Linked DNA regions of Homo sapiens: all the other regions are linked to region 1. Evidence: fine-mapped expression QTL. A gene starts in region 1. Each other region holds a variant in brackets. All regions are shown on one strand. Distances are from middle to middle.

Evidence for each region. PIP is the estimated chance that this variant, and not a neighbour inherited with it, causes the effect.
Region 2: its variant is fine-mapped to the expression of CXCL16 in whole blood (INTERVAL, PIP above 0.99).
Region 3: its variant is fine-mapped to the expression of CXCL16 in macrophages (Nedelec 2016, PIP 0.95).
Region 4: its variant is fine-mapped to the expression of CXCL16 in whole blood (INTERVAL, PIP 0.98).

The regions. Positions count from the first base shown.
Region 1 is chr17:4,736,630-4,742,863 of GRCh38, reverse strand. CXCL16 (C-X-C motif chemokine ligand 16) reads left to right here and starts at 2,936. Exons shown (of 6, transcript NM_001386809.1): 1 at 2,936-3,603; 2 at 3,944-4,082; 3 at 4,374-4,456. The coding sequence starts at 3,525. It overlaps ZMYND15 (zinc finger MYND-type containing 15), which reads right to left and starts at 3,031. Exons shown (of 14, transcript NM_001136046.3): 1 at 2,814-3,031; 2 at 1,724-2,345; 3 at 1,048-1,282; 4 at 794-949; 5 at 373-533. The coding sequence starts at 2,315. RefSeq lists a silencer at 2,845-3,064 and enhancers at 2,613-3,517, 3,518-4,423.
Region 2 is chr17:4,675,050-4,680,049 of GRCh38, reverse strand. PELP1 (proline, glutamate and leucine rich protein 1) reads left to right here. Exons shown (of 17, transcript NM_014389.3): 6 at 3,238-3,297; 7 at 3,543-3,693; 8 at 3,888-4,014; 9 at 4,166-4,253; 10 at 4,688-4,776; 11 at 4,855-4,971. Among named protein-coding and RNA genes, the nearest start is that of PELP1, 27 kb to the left of the region's middle. The variant T/G (reference allele first, on the strand shown) is at 2,513.
Region 3 is chr17:4,765,893-4,772,126 of GRCh38, reverse strand. It overlaps TM4SF5 (transmembrane 4 L six family member 5), which reads right to left and starts at 241. Exons shown (of 5, transcript NM_003963.3): 1 at 28-241. The coding sequence starts at 204. The variant T/C (reference allele first, on the strand shown) is at 2,399.
Region 4 is chr17:4,693,869-4,698,868 of GRCh38, reverse strand. The region is part of intron 1 of PELP1 (proline, glutamate and leucine rich protein 1); the gene reads left to right. Among named protein-coding and RNA genes, the nearest start is that of PELP1, 7.8 kb to the left of the region's middle. RefSeq lists enhancers at 347-516, 1,425-1,594, 2,224-2,293, 3,487-3,656. The variant A/TA (reference allele first, on the strand shown) is at 2,862.

The DNA of each region.
Region 1 (6,234 bases):
AAGCCAAGATAATCCTTGTAACAATTCCATGGGCCTTCTCCGTATCCCTCATGAGGACACGGAAGCTTCAAGAAGTAAAGTGGTTTGTTTAAGGTCACACTGCAGTTAGTGGTGGAGCTGGGAAGCAAGTAAGTGTTTGAATCCCTGTCCCCCAATCCCTGCACGCTCTCAGGGACCCAGACACTCAGGCCTCGGCTTCAGAGACCCTGTCTCCAGCCCCAAACACCCAGCCCCTGCCCTTGTTCCAGGGATCTAGGCTCTAGCCCCAGACACTCAGCCTTCAACTGCAGGACCCTGTTCCCAGACATCTAATTCCCAGTCTCAAAGACCTGGTCCCAGTTTCCCCCAACCATTCTGACCTCCTTATGGTACCTGCGGTGTAGGTAAAAGGCAGGGTTGCCAGTTCTCCTGCCCGCTCCATGAAGGCTGCAAGCCTTGGGCACCAAAATCGGTGACTCACATCATCTGGGCACCGCTGCCAGTCAGCCCGGAGACAAGCCTCTCCACAATACAAGACAGCACTACACTGGGGGCTGGGGACACAGCGGGTGGTGGGCACCTAGTGTTAACCTCTGTAGGTCCTGTCTGCTGTTCAACTGCCCAGCAGCTGCCCATATGTCACTCGGTCTGTTTGTCTTACACCCTCTAACCGCCTGTAACAGTCTGTATTGTTTCCTCTGCATCTTCTCATGTCCCTGCCTCTCCTTCTGTCTGCTAGGCGCCCCCCACCACCCTGCCTTCCTTCTATTTGCCTATTGGGGTCTTCCTCTCCCCCAGCTTTGGGGCTGCTCACCAAGGTGTCAGCTTCGCTTCAAAGCTGTGCCTGTGACACACATGGCAGGTTCGAGCACGAAGGGAAGCAAAGGTGAAGCCTGGCCGGGGACCCCATGTCCGCATTGGGGTTTTGGCTAACTTCACACCTAGCCTTGGGACCAAGCTCTCCAGCTCTCTAAATGCAGTTGGGGGGGAGATGGCATCAGGCTGGAGGAGGTGCTTGGGAATCCAGGGCCCGAGTCCTCCCCAGCCTCAGATACCAGATTTCTATACCGATGCAGCCGGGCATCTCCCACAGTAAGCTGTCGGGGCTTTCGGGGATCCCCAGAGCCCATGGGACAGGCCATGCTGTGACAGAGGAGAGCATAGGCCCAAGGAGCCAGGTCCTTGGTCCCTGAGCCCCAGCTTGCGGTTCCCTGGGCTCCATCCACTAGCAGATCAATGCCCAAGATGGTGCCATGCTCATCCGTCACAAGTAAGAGACAGGAAACGTGCAGGGGGGCAGCCTCTGGGGAAAGAGGGAAAAGTTGAGGTGGTAGGGGGCAGCGAGAGACAAATGTGGTCAGGGTCAGGAGTACCAAACTCAAATACCTACGGGGCTAGGCAAGTAACCTCACTGAGTAAAGGGCTCTGGGTAGAGAGGGCACGCTCCTTCTAAAGGGGACAGCTGCTACAGAGGACCAGAATGCGCTGCCATGCAGAAATGTAGGCCCACTGTCAGAGCTTGAGATTTTTCTTGGGAATGTGTAAATCCAGACTTCTGGATACTTTTTTTCTTGCAATGTTTAAACATTAAATTAAAAAAAAAAACCCCACTGTGGGTCAATAAAAACACCTTTTCAGGCCAGATTGGCCTGAAGGCCAGCACTCAGAACTAGTGGCAGGGGAGGGCTTCCGAAGGGAGGATGGCTGGGCAAGGGGTAGGGCAGGGCCAGCCCTGGGTTCTTACCACTCCTCTGTCCCTTCCTCTTCTGGGGTCTTGTTTCGTTCTCCACCCTGTCCTCTCGGCAGCCATCCTTGCCACCTCCTGCCTCCCGGGCAGCCTCCTCTGACTCTCCTGGAGGGTTTGTTTCCTGGGGGGACTCCCTGCTGGTAGGGGCTAGCTCCCGGTCCTCCTCTGGTTCCACCTTCTCTGTGCTGCCTGCACCCCCGTCCTCTCTCTTCTCTTCTTCTTCATCTTCCTCCTCTTCCTCCTCCCCTTCCTCCCCATCCTCTAGGCTGACAAAGCTGATGTAGGGGCTCAGGTCTCGCAGGTGGAGTGGAGGGTTGTCTCCCAGGAGCCAGGCAGTCCCCAGGCCTGGTCCAGGACCTGGTTCTGCCCCTTGCCCCAGGCTGATGCCCACACTATGGTTGGGCAGGACATGGAGCACCCAAAGGGCAGGGTCCTGGGGTAGCCTTCTGATCTGGGCCTCCAGCTGCCGGCAGCGGCCCTCAAGGCTAGTCCCTACAGCTCCACGCTCTGCCACAAACTTTCGGAACCAGCCGAAGAGAAGGGCAGTGAAATCAAGGAACTCATCCCGGTATCCAGACACAAACTCCATGTCTTCAGCGGCACAGGGCCCCGGCCCAGACTGAGCAAAAGAAGGGATATATGGTGAGGGACAGGAGAGCAATGATGGAGTTTGGGGCTGGGTCACAAATTGAGGGAGAGGGTAGGTTTGAGAGTCACTTAGGGTTGGATCCGTGGATATGCTAGGAGCGGAGAAGAGGATTTTTCAGGGCTGAGGATGGGAGTTTAGGGAGGAAAATGGGGGCTGGACTTGAAAGTGGGTGACCAGGGTTGGAGAAGACTACTCAGGGATGAGATGGTATTTGGGGCTTAAAATTGGAGAGTTCACACCCTCAAAAGCAGAGTTTAAATTAAGGCTAGAGAGGAGAGAGGGCTAATCCTATCGGGAACGGTTTGGTGGGGAGGGAAGCATTTTGGATGCGTCTGTGGGGTATGGGAGTGGGAGCGAGGGGGTTCCCTGGGCTCGGATCTGCGTGGCGGGCAGCCCCGGTAGACCTAGCCCCTCCCGGCCGCCCCACTCCTCCGGTACCTGCAGCCGCCACCACTTTTCGAAGGTAAATACCTCGCGGTGGAGGGTGCGCGGGTGCGGTTGTGACGTCAGGGCTGCCCGAGCCCTCGCCGGCTCAGCGGGCGGCCACGCCCCCCGGGCTCGGTGCGTCCGCGGGTGGCTGCCCCGCAGGTGCGCGCGGCCGGGGCTGGCGGCGACTCTCTCCACCGGGCCGCCCGGGAGGCTCATGCAGCGCGGCTGGGTCCCGCGGCGCCCGGATCGGGGAAGTGAAAGTGCCTCGGAGGAGGAGGGCCGGTCCGGCAGTGCAGCCGCCTCACAGGTCGGCGGACGGGCCAGGCGGGCGGCCTCCTGAACCGAACCGAATCGGCTCCTCGGGCCGTCGTCCTCCCGCCCCTCCTCGCCCGCCGCCGGAGTTTTCTTTCGGTTTCTTCCAAGATTCCTGGCCTTCCCTCGACGGAGCCGGGCCCAGTGCGGGGGCGCAGGGCGCGGGAGCTCCACCTCCTCGGCTTTCCCTGCGTCCAGAGGCTGGCATGGCGCGGGCCGAGTACTGAGCGCACGGTCGGGGCACAGCAGGGCCGGGGGGTGCAGCTGGCTCGCGCCTCCTCTCCGGCCGCCGTCTCCTCCGGTCCCCGGCGAAAGCCATTGAGACACCAGCTGGACGTCACGCGCCGGAGCATGTCTGGGAGTCAGAGCGAGGTGGCTCCATCCCCGCAGAGTCCGCGGAGCCCCGAGATGGGACGGGACTTGCGGCCCGGGTCCCGCGTGCTCCTGCTCCTGCTTCTGCTCCTGCTGGTGTACCTGACTCAGCCAGGTTAGCCGGGGGCGGGGCAGGGGACCCAGATTCCCCTGTCACGGGAAGGGGGTGAGTTGGGGAGGGGACACGAGGCCCACGGAGTTGAGTGGATGAAGGCAGCGGGGACAAGAGGAAAGCCAGCCAGCCGCCTGGGGTTGGGGACAGAGGCCCGGGGACGCCTGGCTCCGGGCGGGATTATGGATGTTGTCGGGGGCGTGATGATGTGTGGGTTGAGCCTGGCGCTCTGACCCTGGGTCCACCGAGAGGCTGTCATGGGGCTGTGGATTGGATGCCAGGGAACAGCGGAGTGGGGACCCTGGGCCTGGGAATGGGTGCCGACCACCTCCGTCCCGCGCAGGCAATGGCAACGAGGGCAGCGTCACTGGAAGTTGTTATTGTGGTAAAAGAATTTCTTCCGACTCCCCGCCATCGGTTCAGTTCATGAATCGTCTCCGGAAACACCTGAGAGCTTACCATCGGTGTCTATACTACACGAGGTAATTTTACCTGCCTCTGCGAGGGCAGCGCCTGGGCGGCCCCTCCTTGCAGGTGCCTCCAGGACCCTCTCTGGTCCAGCCTGAACTCCTTCCCGGCTCACCGAGCCCCATCTCCGGGTTCCGTTTGCTCTCATTCCCCGAAACTTCATGACTCCGTCTCACCTACTGGGGAGTTTCCCAGTCCCAGGAGAAAGGGCTCTTTCTTGGTGGCAACTTCACGCCTCTGGAATGAGGAAGGAGCCGGGGAAGGAAAGAAGGCGCCGCAGCTAAGCCCAGGTCTCTCCTCCGCAGGTTCCAGCTCCTTTCCTGGAGCGTGTGTGGGGGCAACAAGGACCCATGGGTTCAGGAATTGATGAGCTGTCTTGATCTCAAAGGTGAGACTTTTCCACTGCTCTTCAGGCTCTGCCTCCAGGGCTTAGCAGCTTCCACCTGACAGTTTTCTTTACCTGAGCCTTTTCCCCTGGGGCCGCACATTCCTAGAACCTTCTTCTGATCCTGTCCAAAGTACTTAGACTCGAGTCCCTGTTTGCCAAACGGGGTGATCATTCACCATCACCTTCATGAGTTTTGCCAATTCATTCTACCACGTGTGCTATTGTCTACTTATTAATATTTTTCTTGAAATCAAAGTACTATTTTATTTTATTTTTTTGAGATGGAGTCTCACTCTGTCACCCAGGCTGGAGTGCAGTGGCACGATCTTGGCTCACTGCAACCTCTGCCTCCCAGGTTCAAGAGATTCTCCTGCCTCAGCCTCCTGAGTAGCTGGGATTACAGGCGCGCACCACCAAGCCTGGCTAATTTTTGTATTTTTAGTAGAGACAGGGTTTCACCATGTTGGCCAGGCTGGTCTCGAACTCCTGGCCTTGTGATCCACCCGCCTCGGCCTCCAAAAGTGCTAGGATTACAGGCGTGAGCCACCACACCTGGCCTATTTTTCTTTTCCAATATTTTATTATGAAAATTTACACATATACAAAAGTTGAAAGAATGGCACACTGAATATCCAGTGCCTCCACCTAGATTCTACAATTTTATTTATATATGTATATTTTACATATTTACATAAACATATATTTTACACTATCAATTTTACAGCAATTACACGATATTTGCTTTATTAAGTATCCATCTATTCATTCTTCTATCCATCATCCATCACCTTATTTCTTGATGCATTTCTTTTTTTTTTTTTTTTTTTTTTTTAATGGAGTCTTGCTCTGTCGCCCAGGCTGGAGTGCAATGGTGCCCTCAGCTCACTGCAGCCTCCGCCTCCCAGGTTCAAGCAATTCTCCTGCCACAGCCTTCCGAGTAGCTGGGATTGCAGGTGCCCGCCACCATGCCCAGCTAATTTTTGTATTTTTTTAGTAGAGATGGGGTTTCACCGTGTTGGTCAGGCTGGTCTCAAACTCCTGACCTCAGGTGATCCACCTGCCTCAGCCTCCCAAAGTGCTGGGATTACAGGTGTGAACCGCAGTGCCCGGCCTCTTGATGCATTTCAAGGCAGATTGTGGACATCATTGCACTTCATCCCAAGACATTTCAGCATGTATATTAAGTAGAGTTCAATATTTTAATGCTTTTTTTTCTTTTGAGTTCAAATTTACATACAATGAAATGAATTACTTTTAAGTGTGCACAAACTAGTTTTGAAAACTTAAGTAGAGGCCAGGACGGTGGCTCACTCCTGTAATCCTAGCTCTTTGGGAGGTTGAGGCCGGTGGATCACCTGAGGTCAGGAGTTTGAGACCAGCCTGACCAACATGGTAAAACCCCATCTCTACTAAAAATACAAAATTAGCCAGGCATGGTGGCATGTGCCTGTAATTCCAGCTACTCAGGAGGTTGAGGCAGGAGAATCACTTGAACCTGGAGGCGGAGGTTGCAGTGAGCCGAGATCAGGCCATTGCACTCCAGCCTGGGCAACAAAAAAAAAGAAAGAAAACTTAAATAGTAAATTATCCTAAGCAATAATATCTGTGAAGTCACAAGTTTGATGCATTGGTTATATTTTTCTCTTAAAATAAATATACAACCATTAAAATACAAAAGGTTCTTCCATGTCCTAGCTAAAGTTTTGTAGGATCTGTGTCATCCATACTGCCTTTAAGTCTGCCTAGACCTCTATGATTTCCTTTCATCCTCCCAGGAA
Region 2 (5,000 bases), 62 kb after region 1:
TAATTGTAAAACCAGGGCAGGTAGCAGCTCTAGTCAATTGTTAGTGGCTGTGTAGCTCGCTGGCCTGGGAAGGACTGTGAGTCAGAGTTCCATCGGCCTGAGCGCTGTGATCAGGGAGTGATGCCTGCAGTGTCGTTAGTAACTGGTTACTCGCAGTATCTGAAAAGTGCCTGAGCAGATGCTAGTTCTGAGTGAGCGAGGGGTTGTGTCCTTGCTGGTTCCTTCTTTTCATGTGAATGCCTCTAATCACAGCTAATAGAATCTTTGGGTAGGCAGGGCAGGACATTTTGTCAAGAAGGTATTTGGAGTGACTCATCGATTTTATTAAAGATTAGCAGAGGTTATTTACTGAGGTTTTACTAAGTTTAGTAAAAACTGGTTATCTTGTCAAATGTTCTGTAAGTTAACCTCTCAAATGACACAGGCCAGCAGTTTGTCCCTGAACAAAGGTTTGGTTTTACTGCAAAAGTGTATTTTGATTCAGCTCTGTTAGGTATTATCTTTATCTACCTGCATCCCCCATGAAAGTGGAGGGGAAATTGAGTGTTACTTAACAGGATAGAAGTGTGAATAGTAAGAGTTAAGGAGACTAGAATGCTAAGTGTTCTTCTGCTGTTGCTTTTTTATTTTCAGTGTGAGTAGTCAGGAGAATTTATCTGTAATTCTCAACCTTTTGTCAGACAGTTGAACTTAAGGCCTGCATTTTGAGTACCCTTTCCAAACTAACAAATGTTCCTGTGTCCTTCCAGGGAGTGTCTTACCTTTATTTCCCTAAGAATCAAGTGCCATCTGCCAGGAGTTTGAGATCAGCCTGGCCAACATGGTGAAACCCTACCTCTACCAAAAATACAAAAAAATTAGCTGGGTGTGGTGGTGTGTGCCTGTGGTTCCAGCTACTTAGAACATTGAGGCAGGAGATCCCCTGAAGCTGGGAGGCAGAGGGTGCAGTGAGCTGAGATCGTGGCACTGCACTCTAGCCTGGGTAACAGAGTGAGACCCTGTCTCAAAAAAAAAAAAGGTCATCTGGAGAACTTCCCTCTGTTGAGGGTGTTGAGGGTTTTGGCTTTGTCGGTTGCCAGCACTTCAGATAAGAATCTGTCATGCAGAGGCTCCAGGGGCAATTTGCACTTGGAAAATCTCGCAGACTAGTACTTAGGAAAACTGATAACTGCCGTTTTGAAGTGTCTGTGTTTTCTGTTACATTCCCCGGATACTCTCAGGGTAATTGTAGACTCCAAGCTCAGGATTACTACTCCCAAGTAATGTGAATCAAGCATTCTGAGTCCATGAGGTCAATTCCTGCAGAGACTTGAACTCACTTCCTCGTCCTTGCCACATTGATGAGCAGTTCCTCGGAATGGGTGGGAAGACTGACCTACTCTTGAGAGAGCCCCAGGACATGCTGTGTGTGTGCGCGTTTTGAGTGAACTGTTCCAAGCGAGTCATTGCTTTGGTTTGCTTTGTGGGTCAGCCAGGGTAACCTGTGGTTAGAGCCGTGTCGCTTCACCGTACACTGCTTTATTGCAGTCACATAAGCAGACTTCTGTTGGCTTCAGTCCAGCTTTTTGAGCCGTTTTTGGAGATAGGGTCTCGCTCTGTGACCCAGGAGTGCAGTGTTAAGATTGTAGCTCACTGTAACCTTGAACTCCTGGGCTCAAGTGATCCTCCCACGTCAGTCTCCCAAGTAGCTAGGACTACAGGTGTGCACCACTAGGATGTCTCGGGGAAAGCGTGAGCCTGCTCTTTCCCCTTCTCTGTATGTTGCCAGTGTTGGCTCCAGATTCTTGTTTTTCCATATGCTTGTCTTGTTATCCTTACTAATTCTTTTTTTTTTCTGAGACAGAGTCTTGCTCTGTCACCCAGGCTAGAGTGCAGTGGCGTGATCTCGGCTCACTGCAACCTCCGCCTCCTGGGTTCAAGCAATTCTCCTGCCTCAGCCTCCCAAGTAGCTGGGATTACAGGTGCCCACCACTGTGCCCAGCTAATTTTTGTACTTTTAGTAGAGATGGGGTTTCACCATGTTGGCCAGGCTGGTCTTGAACTCCTGACCTCGTGATCTGCTCACCTCAGCCTCCCAAAGTGCTGGGATTACAGGTATGAGCCACCGTGCCTGGCCTTTTTTTTTTTCTTTTTGAGACAGGGTCTCACTCTCATCACCCAGGCTAGAGTACACTGACTGGCATGATCTCGGTTCTGGGCTTGGGTGGTCCTCCCACCTCAGCCTCCCAAGTAGCTGGGACTACAGGCATGCGCCACCACACCCGGCTAAGTTTTTGTATTTTTAGTAGAGATAGGGTTTCTCCATGTTGCCCAGACTGGTCTCAAACTCCTTGGCTCAAGTGATCCGCCTGCCTTGACCTCCCAAAGTGCCTGGATTACAGGCGTGAGCTACTGCACCCAGCCTGTGCTTTTTTATTGACATGTTAAGTAATAAGATCTAGAAGCAGGTCTTACAACGACTATAATTGCAAATTAGTGATGCATGTGAATGATATTTCAGGATGTGTTACAA[T/G]TATAATGTGACATGAAAATGATTCTATTAGTGACAGTCACAGGTACTGCTGATACTACTGTGGCTATTTGTCTGCATTTATAAGTGAAGGAAACACTACATTTTACAAATAGGCTAGTGGGAGTAATTTTTTTCCCCATCCATGATCACAGGCCCCCTATGATTGTATATCCAACTAAATTGTGGTTCTCAGGTTAAACACTCCTGCCCTAGCACCTTCACACAGCAGGCAGAGAAAGTGCCGAATGACAGATTGCTACTCCGAGACTTGCTGCCTTACTTCTGCTCTAGCAGCCTTCTTTTTTGACCTTGTCCTGCCCTCATACCTCTGGTTAGTGTCTTAACTTCCAGCTTGGACCCTCGTTTTTGTGTGTGAGCTGGTAGAGAGTTGGAGTGTGGAGACTGTTTTTTAGTACTATGTCCTTTTGGCTTGAGGGAAAAATTTTGCAAAAACTGTCAAGGAGGAAGCCCAGCTGTCTCTGGGACAGGGCCAGGCCCTTTTCGCTCCCAAGCAGGAAGCCGAGGACCAGAGCTGGCGTTGAGGAGTCTTTTACCATGAAAGCATGTCCGTGCCCGGTGTTGATGCCCCATAGAGGGCTTTGCTTCTTGTGTCTACAGGAAAAAGAGACCTGGGCTTAGAGTCTGCTGCTGGGAACGGATGGGATGTACATCTCTGGCTCTCAGAGCTGGCTCACTGGCCTCTTCCTTTTTTCCTCCACATCCAGGGCAAGCTGGCCTCATTTTTTCTGTCTAGGGTGGATGCCTTGAGCCCTCAGCTCCAACAGGTAAAGGGCAGGGAGGGAGAGGGAGAGCCCGGGGATCTGAGCCTGGATTGTCTCTTGCTGCTCCTCCTCTAGCTTTTCTGTCCTGCCTTCATATGCCCATCTGTGTCCTTCGGCCTCATTGTCCCATCTCAGGTTTCCCTCAGAGCTCTCTCTGATCTCCATCTCTTTTGGGTGTCAGTGGGGCTGGGGGTTCTGTGGCTGGGCTGGATTCCCATCTGACCAGGTTTCTGTCCTTTCTCCCGCAGTTGGCCTGTGAGTGTTATTCCCGGCTGCCCTCTTTAGGGGCTGGCTTTTCCCAAGGCCTGAAGCACACCGAGAGCTGGGAGCAGGAGCTACACAGTCTGCTGGCCTCACTGCACACCCTGCTGGGGGCCCTGTACGAGGGAGCAGAGACTGGTAGGGACCAGGGCTGCTAGTTAGTGGAACAATAGTGAGGAAGCGTGGCAGGAAGGAACAGGAGGGGAGCCCAGAGACATGGGGCAGTTGGTTTTTGGGGAAAATGGGTTAGAATACAGGCAGGTCGTCCACCAGAAATGACAGAGGAGGGGATGGAAGAAAGACAGTGTACAGGGTAGTTGTGCTTCTGCCAGCTCCTGTGCAGAATGAAGGCCCTGGGGTGGAGATGCTGCTGTCCTCAGAAGATGGTGATGCCCATGTCCTTCTCCAGCTTCGGCAGAGGTTTTCGGGACTGGCCCGCTGCCTAGGGCTCATGCTCAGGTGTGTGTGGGTATTGGAGGGAGCGGAGGCGTGGAGCAGGAGGGATTGATGAGGGAGTGTCGCCTTCATCAGGAGAAAGGAGATGAAGGTGGGTGTGGGAGTTATGCCAGGGAGCCTGCTCTGAAGGTCTCCCTGCTCTGATTCTCTTTAGCTCTGAGTTTGGAGCTCCCGTGTCCGTCCCTGTGCAGGAAATCCTGGATTTCATCTGCCGGACCCTCAGCGTCAGTAGCAAGAATATTGTAAGTGGGATTTGTCATCTCTTCAGAGCCCTTGCTCAGGATACCAGGCAACCAGGAAAGTACTGGGGACCTGAGTCTCCCCAAACAGTGTCATCCTGGAGTCGTCCCAGAGAGCTTCCTACTTTTGTCCAAATAACATCACTTCCTATGTGTCGTGACACAGGAGCACAGTGTCAGAGTGTAGCAAATGCTTCCTTGGGGGAGGGTGAATTTGGGGATCAGCTGAGTCATTGCTGAGAGGCCCAGCCATCCTTCTTACCTTCCATCCAGGGTCTATTTTAGAGGATAGGGGTTTGATTTTGTTGGGAGAGCTGAGATCAGGGGTTGGGTTTCTTACCTATGTGTACATATGTAAATGGTCATTCCCTGTTTCTGTCTCTCTCTGGCTCTCACTTTCTTCCTCCACTCTTTATCTCTGCCCCTTTTTTCTCCAGAGCTTGCATGGAGATGGTCCCCTGCGGCTGCTGCTGCTGCCCTCTATCCACCTTGAGGCCTTGGACCTGCTGTCTGCACTCATCCTCGCGTGAGTGGGATTGGGCTGGCTGTGGTGAAGGGATAGGGCGTGCCAGAAACGAGGGTCACCATTCCTTCTCTGCCCCAGGTGTGGAAGCCGGCTCTTGCGCTTTGGGATCCTGATCGGCCGCCTGCTTCCCCAGGTCCTCAATTCCTGGAGCATCGGTAGAGATTCCCTCTCTCCAGGCCAGGAGAGGCCTTACAGGTGACCATCCAGGAAGGCAGGAAGGGAAT
Region 3 (6,234 bases), 29 kb before region 1:
CCCGGGCTCCCCTGCCAGCCTTCTCACCATTAGGCCCCCGCCAATGAAGCCGCCCATGAGCCAGACTTGCAAGCTGAGATGGTTGGTGTTGGTCCAGGAGGTCTCCCCATTAGGTACCAGCAGGAGGGCGTTGGCCACAATGCAGACGAGGCAGAGGGTAATGAGGGAGAGCCCCACACAGCGGGCACATTTTCCCGTACACATGGTGAGGTGTCAGGAAGGACAGGCGGTGAGTGAAAGTAAGCCAGTGGTTCCCAGGTCCAGAGGAAAACAAGCCTGGAGCACGGAGCAAAGTTCAGACAGAGGCGTGGCAGAAACTGGCAGGATCAGAATGATAAGGGAGAGAGGCACAGGATGTGGGCCCTGAGGAGGCAGAGGCGGAGGAGCTGCAGCCCTGAGGTGAAGGGAGGATGTGGTGCTGGACAAGGTGGGGGCTATGGACACATTACCCTGGGTTAGTGCCTTCCTGTTTTTTCTGCACAGCTCCACAGCCCCTCTGTTGGTTCCATACCTGCTTTGCAACTTAGCCAAGCCCCTTCATGTCTCTTAAGTCTCAGTTGCCACTTGTGTCTGGGCACGGTGGCTCACACCTGTAATCCCAGCACTTTGGGAGGCCGAGGAGGGTGGATCACCTGAGGTCAGGAGTTTGAGACCAGCCTGGCCAACGTGGTGAAACCCCGTCACTACTAAAAATGCAAAAGTTATCTGTGCATGGTGGCGGGCACCTGTAATCCCAGCTATTCGAGAGGCTGAAGCAGGAGGATCACTTGAACCTGGAAGGTGGAGGTTGCAGTGAGCTGAGATTGTGCCATTGCACTCCAGCCTGGGTGACAAGAGTGAAACTCTGTCTCGAAAAATAAATAAATAAGTAAATAAAGTGACAAGAATGAAACTCTGTCTCAAAAAGTAAATAAATAAATAAATAAATAAATAGATAAATAAATAAGTGATGCCACTTGCCTTGTGGGCTACTTGTGAGGATTAAATGGGACAACCTGAGAAGTATTTTGTAAACTAGGAAGCACAGAGCAGATGTGTGGTGGCCTCTTCGTTTCTGCCAGCCTCTCAGGCAGCATTCTTCCCAGGGAGAAATTAAAGAGGTGATTGTGGGCTCTTATTGTCCTTGCATTTCGTCTTCCTGGTATTTGATTATTGATGTCTCCTCCTCTTGAGGCCACTGCCTGTCTCTCAGGGTGGGCTCGGGACCTAGGCCTCATTGATGAGAGCGTTCTATCCTGCTAGCCTCGGTGTTTGATTTAGCAACAGCCATGCGATCTGAGCCAACTCTGTGAGAATCAGCTTCTGCCATTTTTCCATTCTGAGGTCAAAGAAGTTCTGTTTTTGTTGGGGTGCTGCAGTTTCCTTGATAACTTCTTTTTTTTTTGAGACGGAGTCTCACTCTGCCGCCCAGGCTGGAGAGCAGTGGCGTGATCTTGGCTCACTGCAACCTCCGCCTCCTGGGTTCAAGCGATTCTCCTGCCTCAGCCTCCCAAGTAGCTGGGATTACAGGCGCCCACCACCACACCCAGCTAATTTTTGTATTTTTAGTAGAGACGGGGTTTCACCATGTTGGCCAGGCTGGTCTCAAACTCCTCACCTCAAATGATCCACCTGCCTCAGCCTCCCAAAGTGCTGGGATTACAAGCATGAGCCAAGCCACCCAGTCGACTTCTTTTTTTTTTAATTAAAAAAATGTTTTTGAGACCAGGGTCTCCCTTTGTTGCCCAGGCTGGTGTGGAGTGGATCATGGCTCCCTGCAGCCCTGACCACCTGGGCTCAAGTGATCCTCCCACCTCAGCCTCCCGAGTAGCTAGGACTATAGGTGTGTGCCACCACACCTGGCTAATGGTTTTTTGTTGTTTTTTTTTTGAGATGGAGTCTTGCTCTGTCACCCAGGCTGGAGTTTAGTGGTGTGATCTCGGCTCACTGCAACCTCTGCCTCCTGGGTCTCAGAAGCAAACAGGAGAGTGAAGGCCCCCACAGAATGAGCCCTAGCTCAAGTAGGATGTGGGAGTGCCATGAAGAGATGAGGGTAGCAGGAAGGGCTGCAGGGCTTCAGAGGGTATGCAATGAGGCTGTCACCTGGAAAGTGTCACCAGCCAGTGGCCCCTGATGCAGCCCCTCCTTGCGGCCCACTCAGACCACTACAGAAATGTGGAAAATGGAGAAAAGCCAGAATCTCTGCTATTTATAAGACAGAGGAACTGGATTGAGAAAAATACATGGAGAATTTACCTCTTGAATCAGAGGATGCCTGAAAAAGAAAATACTTTGAACCTCCCCAACTATTTGTCTCTGACTCATAGGTAATTATGATGACTGATACATTTGGTTTTGCTTCTGTTGGCATGTTTAATGCTTTAAACAACATTTCCATATTGCTTCTGATGTTTTCTGT[T/C]CCTCTTCTTTTTTGTTTTTTGAGACAGAGTTTTGCTCTTGTTGCCCAGGCTGGAGTGCAGTGGTGCGATCATGGCTCACTGCAACCTCCACCTCCCAAGTTCAAGCAATTCTCCTGCCTCAGCCTCCCGAGTAGCTGGGATTATAGGCATGCGACACCACGCCCAGCTAATTTTGTATTTTTAGTAGAGACGGGGTTTCTCCATGTTGGCCAGGCTAGTCTCGAACTCCCGACCTCAGATGATCCCCGCCTCGGCCTCCGAAAACGCTGGGATTACAGGCATGAACCACTGCGCCCAGCCTCTGTCCCTTTTCTTTAAAGATTTTACATTATCCTTTTTTTTTTTTTTTTGAGACAGGGTCTCTGTCACTCAGACTAGAGTGCCATGGTAAGATAATCATGGCTCGCTGCAGCTATGACCTCCTAGCTCAAGCTGTCTTCCCACTTCAGCTTCCTTAGTAGCCAGGATTACAGGCCCACACCACCACACTCAACTAATTTAAAAAATTTCTTTTGGCCGGGCGCAGTAGCTCACGCCTGTAATCCCAGCACTTTGGGAGGACAAGGTGGGCAGATCATGAGGTCAGGAGATCGAGACCATCCTGGCTACCGTGGTGAAACCCTGTCTCTACTAAAAATACAAAAAAAATTAGCTGGGTGTGGTGGCAGGCACCTGTAATCCCAGCTAGTCGGGAGGCTGAGGCAGGAGAATTGCTTGAACCCGGGAGATGGAGGTTGCAGTGAGCCGAGATTGCACCACTGGACTCCAGCCTGGGTGACAGAGGAAGACTCCATCTAGAAAAAAAAAAAAAAGATACAAGGAAAAGGGTCACATTGGATCCCACCCTAGATCACCTGACCCCCAGCCAACTCCTATGTGTGTATCAGTGAAATAAATGCTTATATTTATTTGACACTAAGACTTCGTCGAGGGGGATGGTTTGTTGCCCAGTAACAAGTTCCTAACACAGACCCCCTTATCTAGGCCAGGGCTGGTTGATTGAGGAACAAGTAGCTGACCCAAAGGCAGACATGTAGCCAGCGACCTGTGAGGTCTCTCGAGGTGAGAACTCCATCCAACAGAGGTACACTGACTGGATAATGACCAATCCACCGACTGGATCTTCATGATTGGGAAATGTGTCTGTGAGACAAGCTGAGACAGTCATCAGAGAGTGGGGTGGCTTCAAACTGAGAGTTGTATGCAAGAAAGAAGCAATCAAAAGCCAGAGGCAACTGACACCAGAAATAAGCAGAAGTCACAGCAAGAGAAGTGTATGGAGAATAGTTACTCTGAAACAGCGCCAGAGGGAGAAGCACAGGCACTGGAAAACTCTGGTTCCTCAGGAGGTGGCCGATGAGAGGTTGTCACCAGCACTAATGTTGAACTACCAGAGCAACTGTCATATCCCGAATAGTGGCCCTTCCAACCGTGGACCTGAAGAGGGGATTCAGCCATTGATCTGATGGACAGAGAGCAGGGCCAAGAGCTGGCCACCTATTTGTCTACAAGTTGCTCAAGCTGATTCTGAGAGATGGTGCCTCTTTTTTATTTTTTTTTAAACAGAGTTTCACTCTTATTGCCCAGGCTGCAGTGCAGTGGCGTGATCTCGGCTCACCGCCACCTCCGCCTCCCGGGTTCAGGAGACTCAAGTAGTTGGGATTACAGGTGCCCGCCACCACGCTTGGCTCATTTTTGTATTTTTTGTGGAGATGAAGACAGGGTTTCTCCATGTTGGCCAGGCTGCTCTCGAACTCCTGATCTCAGGTGATCCACCCACCTCGGTCTCCCAAAATGCTGGGATTACAGGTGTGAGCCACTGCGGCCAGCCAAATGGTGTCTGTTTTGAGGATGAATAAAGAGAAAAAAAATAGTTGTGTGGGTGGGGTGGTCCACAGGCATTCATTACATTATTTTTATACAATTCTGGATGAATGAAATAATGTTAATAATGTTAACAAAACATTATAGGGATTCTGAAAAATTTTCTCAAAACCAGGGAAGGGCAAATCAACCTGAAGACTGAAAGAAACAGAATCCTCTGGAGGAACATTTACTATAGGATTTGGAAGAGATTTCCAGGAAGATTTTTGATGACATCACTAGAATTCTCCTGGAACTAGGAACAGAATAACTTAAGAAAGAAAAGGCTGGCCGGGCGCGGTGGCTCACGCCTGTAATCCCAGCACTTTGGGAGGCCAAGCTCGGTGAATCACCTGAGGTCAGGAGTTTGAGACCAGCCTGGCCAACATGGCGAAACCCCATCTTCACAAAAAATACAAAAATTAGACAAGTGTGATGGCAGGCACCTGTAATCCCAGCTACTCAGGAGGCTGAGGCAGGAGAATCGCTTGAACCCGGGAGGTGGGGGTTGCAGTGAGCCGAGATCGCACCATTGCACCCCAGTATGGGCAACAGAGCAAGACTCCATCTCAAAAAAAAAAAAAAAAAAAAGGTCCAGGCTCAGTGGGTCACGCTTGTAATCCCAGCACTTTGGGAGGCCGAGGCGGGCAGATCACCTGAGGTCAGGAATTCGAGACCAGCCTGACCAACATGGGGAAACCCCGTCTCTACTAAAAATACAAAAATTAGCTGGGCATGGTGGCGGGTGCCTGTAATCCCCGCTACTCAGGAGGTTTAGGCAGGAGAATCGCTTGAACCCGGGAGGTGGAGATTGCAGTGAGCCAAGATCACGCCATTGCGCTTCAGCCTGGGTGACAGAGTGAGACTCTGGCTCAAAAAAAAAAAAAAAAAAATTCAGGAAACTGGCTTCTCCTAAGAACAAGAATAGAACTGGTGGAAGTGACACCACAGTTAAAACATCTGCACTAGGAGAAGACGTCACTGAGCGCAGATAGATCCACTCAGGTCAGTGGGTTGAAAGTTATACTGCACGGCAGGTAAAATATTAAAAGTCAGCTGACCATAGATTCATCCTGACAAAATATCTGAATTAAAGGATACATCTAGGCAGAATTTAAAAAGGCTACTTAGAAAGAAACAATAGTTGGTGTGGCCAGAGTCTTCTCTGAAATACTGAATGTCAGAGGACAAAGGAGTAAGGCAGCTGTGTCCACCAAAAAAGGTAGAACTATCATATACATGTCTAAGTTGCATTTTGTATGTTAAGGGCAACACAATTGCATTTCTGAGAATGTTTGGATTTCAAAATAACACTTTGGCTCCTTTTTTTTAGAGAAATTGTGTTGACTCACCAAGAGATGAAGTAAAATAAAAACCCCAAAATGGGGAAGTCTTGACGTAAGTCTAAATAAATTTCATATATCTGGTTACAAAACTGGATGCACATTTTGGAAAAAAATATTTTTCTTCTCTTTTGTTTTGAGTCAGAGTCTTGCTCTGTCATGCAGGCTGGAGTGCAGTGGCGTCATCTTGACTCTGCAACCTCAGCCTTCTGAGTTCAAGCGATTCTCCTGCCTTAGCCCCCCAAGTAGCTGGGATTACAAGCATGGGCCACCAGGCCTGGCTAATTTTTATATTTTTAGTAGAGACTAAGTTTCACCATGTTGGAGGGTGGTCTTGAACTCCTGACCTCAAGTGATCCACCTGTCTTGGCCTCCCAAAGTGCTGGGATTACAGGTATGAGCCACCACAACCCGGCCAGAGCCATTGTGCCCAGTCTCATTTTTTTTTAAAGACAGTGTCTCACTCTGTTGTCCAGACTGGTGTGCAGTGGCATGATCTTGGCTCACTGCAAACTCTATCTCCTGGGCTCAAGTGATCGTCCTGCCTCAGCCTGCCAAGTAACTGGGACTACAGATGTTCACCACCCACCATGCTTGTCTAATCTTTTTGTGTGTATATATGTAAATAT
Region 4 (5,000 bases), 43 kb after region 1:
TCTCTTACATAATCATACTCTATCATCATGATCAGAGAATTAATATTGGTACAATAAATTATTTAACCTACAGATCTTTTTTAAGTTTTGCCATCAGTTCTCCTAAAGGCATCCATTATAACAACAACAACAACAACAACATTTCTAGTCCAGGATTTAATGCAGGATCACATGTTGCATTTAGTTGTTTTTTTTGTTGTTGTTTGTTTTGCCTTGTTTTTTTTTTTTTGAGACAATCTCAGTCTGTTGCCTAGGCTGGAGTGCCGTGGCATGATCTTGGCTCACTGGAACCTCCGCCCCCTGGGTTTAAGCGATTCTCCTGCCTCAGCCTCCCAAGTAGCTGGGATTACAAGCGCCTGCTACCATGCCTGGCTAATTTTTTTTCTTTTTTTTTTTTTAGTAGCGATGGGGTTTCGCCATGTTGGCCAGGCTGGTCTCGAACTCCTGACCTCAGATCATCCACCCGCGTTGTCCTCCCGAAGTGCTGGCGTGAGCCACCGCGCCCAGCTTGCTTTTAGTTATAATGTCTCTTTAGTATTCTTTAATCTGAAATAGTTCTTCAGCCTTTGTCTTATGATCTTGATATTTTTAAAGAGTACAGAATAGTTATTTCGTAGGATGCCCCTCAGGTTAGGATCTAATCATGAGGAAACAGCAGACAAATTAAACTGGAGATTTGTGCGTTTTCAGCAAGAATACTGCAGAAGTCGTCCAGGTGCAGTGGCTCATGCCTGTTATCCCAGCATGAGATTCAGAGGCTTAGTGGGAGGCCGAAGTGGGAGGATCACTGAGTGCAGGAGTTCAAGACTAGCTTGGGCAACATGGCAAGACCCTATCTCTACAAAAAAAAAAAAAAAAAACCTTGCAGAAATGATGTGTCATTCTTGGTGCATCACATCAGGAGCACGTATTCTAGGTTAAGCAGGTCTCTGCCAGATTTCTTCACTGTTATAAAGGTATGATTTTTTTTTTTTCCATTTGTAGTTAAGTGTCTTGGGGGGAGATAATGTGAATGTCTTAGGTCTTGTCAACCTTTCACCCACTCATTTTAACATCTATTAAAGGTTCTTCCCTGAATGAATTATTACTATGATGGTTGTTCCGTTGAACTCATTACATTCAGGCTTTTAGCCTAAATGCTGCCGAAACAACCCTTTGCTGGGTGAAATGGTAACTCTTGAAGATCACTGGTGTCCATCAAGACATTAAGTTCAAAGGTCAATTTGGGTCATCATATTTGACTTATCGCTACCATTTGATACAGTTAATTATACTTTCCTATTTAAAAAACTGTCTTCACTTGACTTCTGGGATATCTCTCCCCTGTCTTTTTGTTTTTGTTTGTTTGTTTCATTGAGACAGGGTCTCGCTGTGTTGCCCAGGCTGGAGTGCAGTGGCGCGATCATAGCTTACTGCATCCTTGATCTTCCAGGCTGAGGCAGTCCGCCCTGCTCAGCCTTCTGGGTAGCTGGGACCACAGGTGTGTGCCCCCACACCCAGCTAATCTGTTTGATTTTTAGTAGAAACAAGGTCTCGCTATGTTGCTGAGGCTGGTCTTGAACTCTTGAGCTCAAGCAGTCTTCCCACTTTAGCCTCCTAAAGTACTGGGATTATAGGCGTTAGTCACCCTCCCAGCCCCTCTCCTCTCCTCTCGATTCTCCTGTTATCACACTGGTTACTCCTTTCCAGTAAAGACTGATCCCTCCTCACCTCTGTGACCTCTGAAGGTTTGAGTGCCTACAACCCAGGCCTTGCACTGTTTCTCTTCTCTTTACTCTTATTCCCTTGGTGAACTGATCCAGTCTCAAGGCCCACACCTCTTGAGTTTACATCTCCAGCCAGAAGTTCTCTTCACACTTGTCTAGCCGGTGCCTATTTGGCATCTCCGTTTTCATGTTAAATACACATCACAGATTGAACAGATCTGAAACTGAGCTCCCTATTGTCACCCCAAAACCTGCTCCTCCTGCATTAGTTCCCTTCTCGGTGAATGGCAGCTTCATCTTTCTAGTTGTTCAGCAAAAAACCTTGGCATTATCTTGGACCCTTCTTTTTATTTTCCACCCATATCCAGTTTGACGGCACATCCCGTTGGCTCTACCTTCACAGTACTTCCTGATTTTGACTGCTTTGTATCGCCACAGTTACCACATTCTTCAAGCTGCATCATCATTTGTCTGGAATATTACAGTAACCTTCTACCTCATCTGTTTGCTTCTGCCTTCTCAACAAGACAACACAAATGCTGTTGATTAAAAACAAAGCAAAACAAAAAGCAAACCAGAAGTCAGATATTGTCACTCCTGTGCGCAATTTCTCTCTCCCCCTCGTGGCTTTTATCTTACTCAGGGTGAAAGTCGGTAATCACCTATATGTCTCTGCACAGTCTGGTCCCACTCCCTTAACCTTCATCATTGGTTACTCCTCTCCACCTTGCTCACTTTTCTCCATCAACAATTTGTCTCCTTGTTGTTCTTTGGAAATAACGAAGTATGCTCTCATCTCATAGTCTTCGCTCTTTTTATTTTTCTTTTTTGAGACAGGATGTTGCTTTGCTGTTCAGGCTGGAGTGTAGTGGTGGCGATCATGGCTCACTGCAGTCTTGACCTCCCGGGGTCAAGCAGCCCTCCCACCTTAGCCTCCCAAGTAGCTGTGACCACAGGTGCCCTCCACCATGTTCGGCTAATTTTTAAAAATTCTTTGTGGAGAATGGGGGTCTCCCTCGGTTGCACAGGCTGATCTTGACCTCCTGGGCTCAAGCCATCCTCCTGCCTTGGCCTCCCAGTGTTGGGATTACAGTCATGAGCCCCTTGCCCAGCCTGTTTTTTTTTTTTTTCTTTTCCTGGAACACTCTTTTTTTT[A/TA]TGGTTATCAGTATGCCTTTTTATAAAAACAGCTTTACTGCGGGGGTTCATGGTGGTTCACTCCTGTAATCCCAGCACTTTCGGAGGCCAAGGTGGGCGGATCACCTGAGGTCAGGAGTTGGAGACCAGCCTGACCAATATGGTGAAACCACACCACCACGTCTGGCTAATTTTTGTATTTTTAGTAGATTTTTAGATGTTTAGTTTCGCCACGTTGGCAAGGCTGTTCTCAAACTCCTAACCTCAAATGATCTGCCCACCTTGGCCTCCCCAAGTGCTGGGATTACAGGCGTGAATCACTGCCCCCTGCCAGATTTTTTTTTTTTTTTTTTTTTTTTTTAAGAGAGAGGGTCTCACTCTTTTGCCCAGGCTGGAGTATAGTAGTGTGTTCATAGCTCACTGCAGCCTTGAACGCCTGGATTCAAGCGATCCTTCTGCCTCAGCCTCCCGAGTAGCTGGGACTGCAGGTGCATGCCATTGCACCTGGCTAATTTTTAAAAATTTTTGTAGAGATGGTGTCTCTCTGTGTTGCCCAGGCTGGTATGGAACTCCTGGCCTCAAGTGATTCGCCTGCCTTGGTTTCCCAGAATTTTGGGATTATAGGCCACCGTGCCTGGCCAAAACAGCTTTATTGAGAAATAATTCACAAACCATACAATTTAGCCATTTTATTTATTTATTTTTTCCAGACGGAGTCTCACTCTGTTGCCGAGGCTGGAGTGCAGTGGCGTGATCTCGGCTCACTGCGACCTCTGCCTCCCGGGTTCAAGCGATTCTCCTGCCTCAGCCTCCCTAGTAGTTGGGATTACGGGCGCCCGCCACCATGTCCGGCTAATTTTTGTATTTTTCAGTAGAGACGGGTTTTCATCATGTTGGCCAGGCTGGTCTCAAACTCCTGACCTCGTGATCCACCCGCTTCGGCTGCCCAAAGTGCTGGAATTACAGGCATGAGCCACGGTGCCTGGCCTTTTATTTTTTTCGAAATGGAGTCTCACATTGTCACCCAGGCTGGAGTACAGTGGTGCAATCTTGGCAAACTGCAATTTCTGCATCCTGGGTTCAAGCGATTCTCCCGGGTTCAAGCGATTCTCCCGGGTTCAAGCGATTCTCTCAGGTTCAAGCGATTCTCCTTCCTTAGCCTCCCGAGTAGCTGGGATTACAGGCGCCCACCACCACGCCTGGCTAATTTTTGTATTTTTAGTAGAGCCGGGGTTTCACCATGTTGGCCAGGCTGGTCTTGAACTCCTGACCTCATGATCCACCTGCCTCGGCCCCCCAAAGTGCTGGCATTACAGGCGTAAGCCACCGCGCCCGGCCCATTTTATTTTTATTTTATTTTATTTTTTTTGAGGTGGAGTCTCATTCTGTCACCCAGGCTGGAGTGCAGTGTCACGATCTTGGCTCATTGCGACCTCCGCCTCCCGTTCTCAAGCGGTTCTCCTGCCTCAGCCTTTGGAGTAGCTGGGATTACAGGCGCCTGCCACCACGCCTGGCTGATTTTTTTTTTTTTGTATTTTTGGTAGAGATGGCGTTTCACCATGTTGGCCAGGCTGGTCTCAAACCCCTGACCTCAGGTGGTCTGCCCACCTTGGCCTCCCAAAGTACTGGGATTATAGGCATGAGCCACTGCGCCCGGCCACAGTTCACTCACTTAGAGTATACAATTCCGTGGATTTAGTATATTTGCAGAGTTGTGCGGTCATTGCTGTGCTCAGTTTTGGAACATTTTCATCACTCCATAAAGAAATTCTGTACCCACTTACAGTCATTCCCATTGCCCACCAAGCCCTCCCTGGCTGCCTCCAGCTTTAGGCAAACAGTAATCTACTTTTTTTCTTTAGAGATTTGCCTATTCTGGCCATTTGATAGAAATGAATTGTATAATATGTAGCCTTTGGGTTTGGCTTCTTTCACTTAGCAGTCAGTTTTCAAGGTTCATCCATGTGTCAAGACTTTATTACTCTTTTCTGTTTTGCTGTGTTGGGTCTTGTGTTGCCTAGGCTGGATTCAAACTCTCAGGATTAGTCAAGTGATTCTTATGCCTCAGCCTCCCAAGTAGCTGGGACTACAGGCGGGTGCCATTGTGCCCGGCTAAAACTTCATTCCTATTTATGGCCTTTTATGCAATAGTCCCCTCTT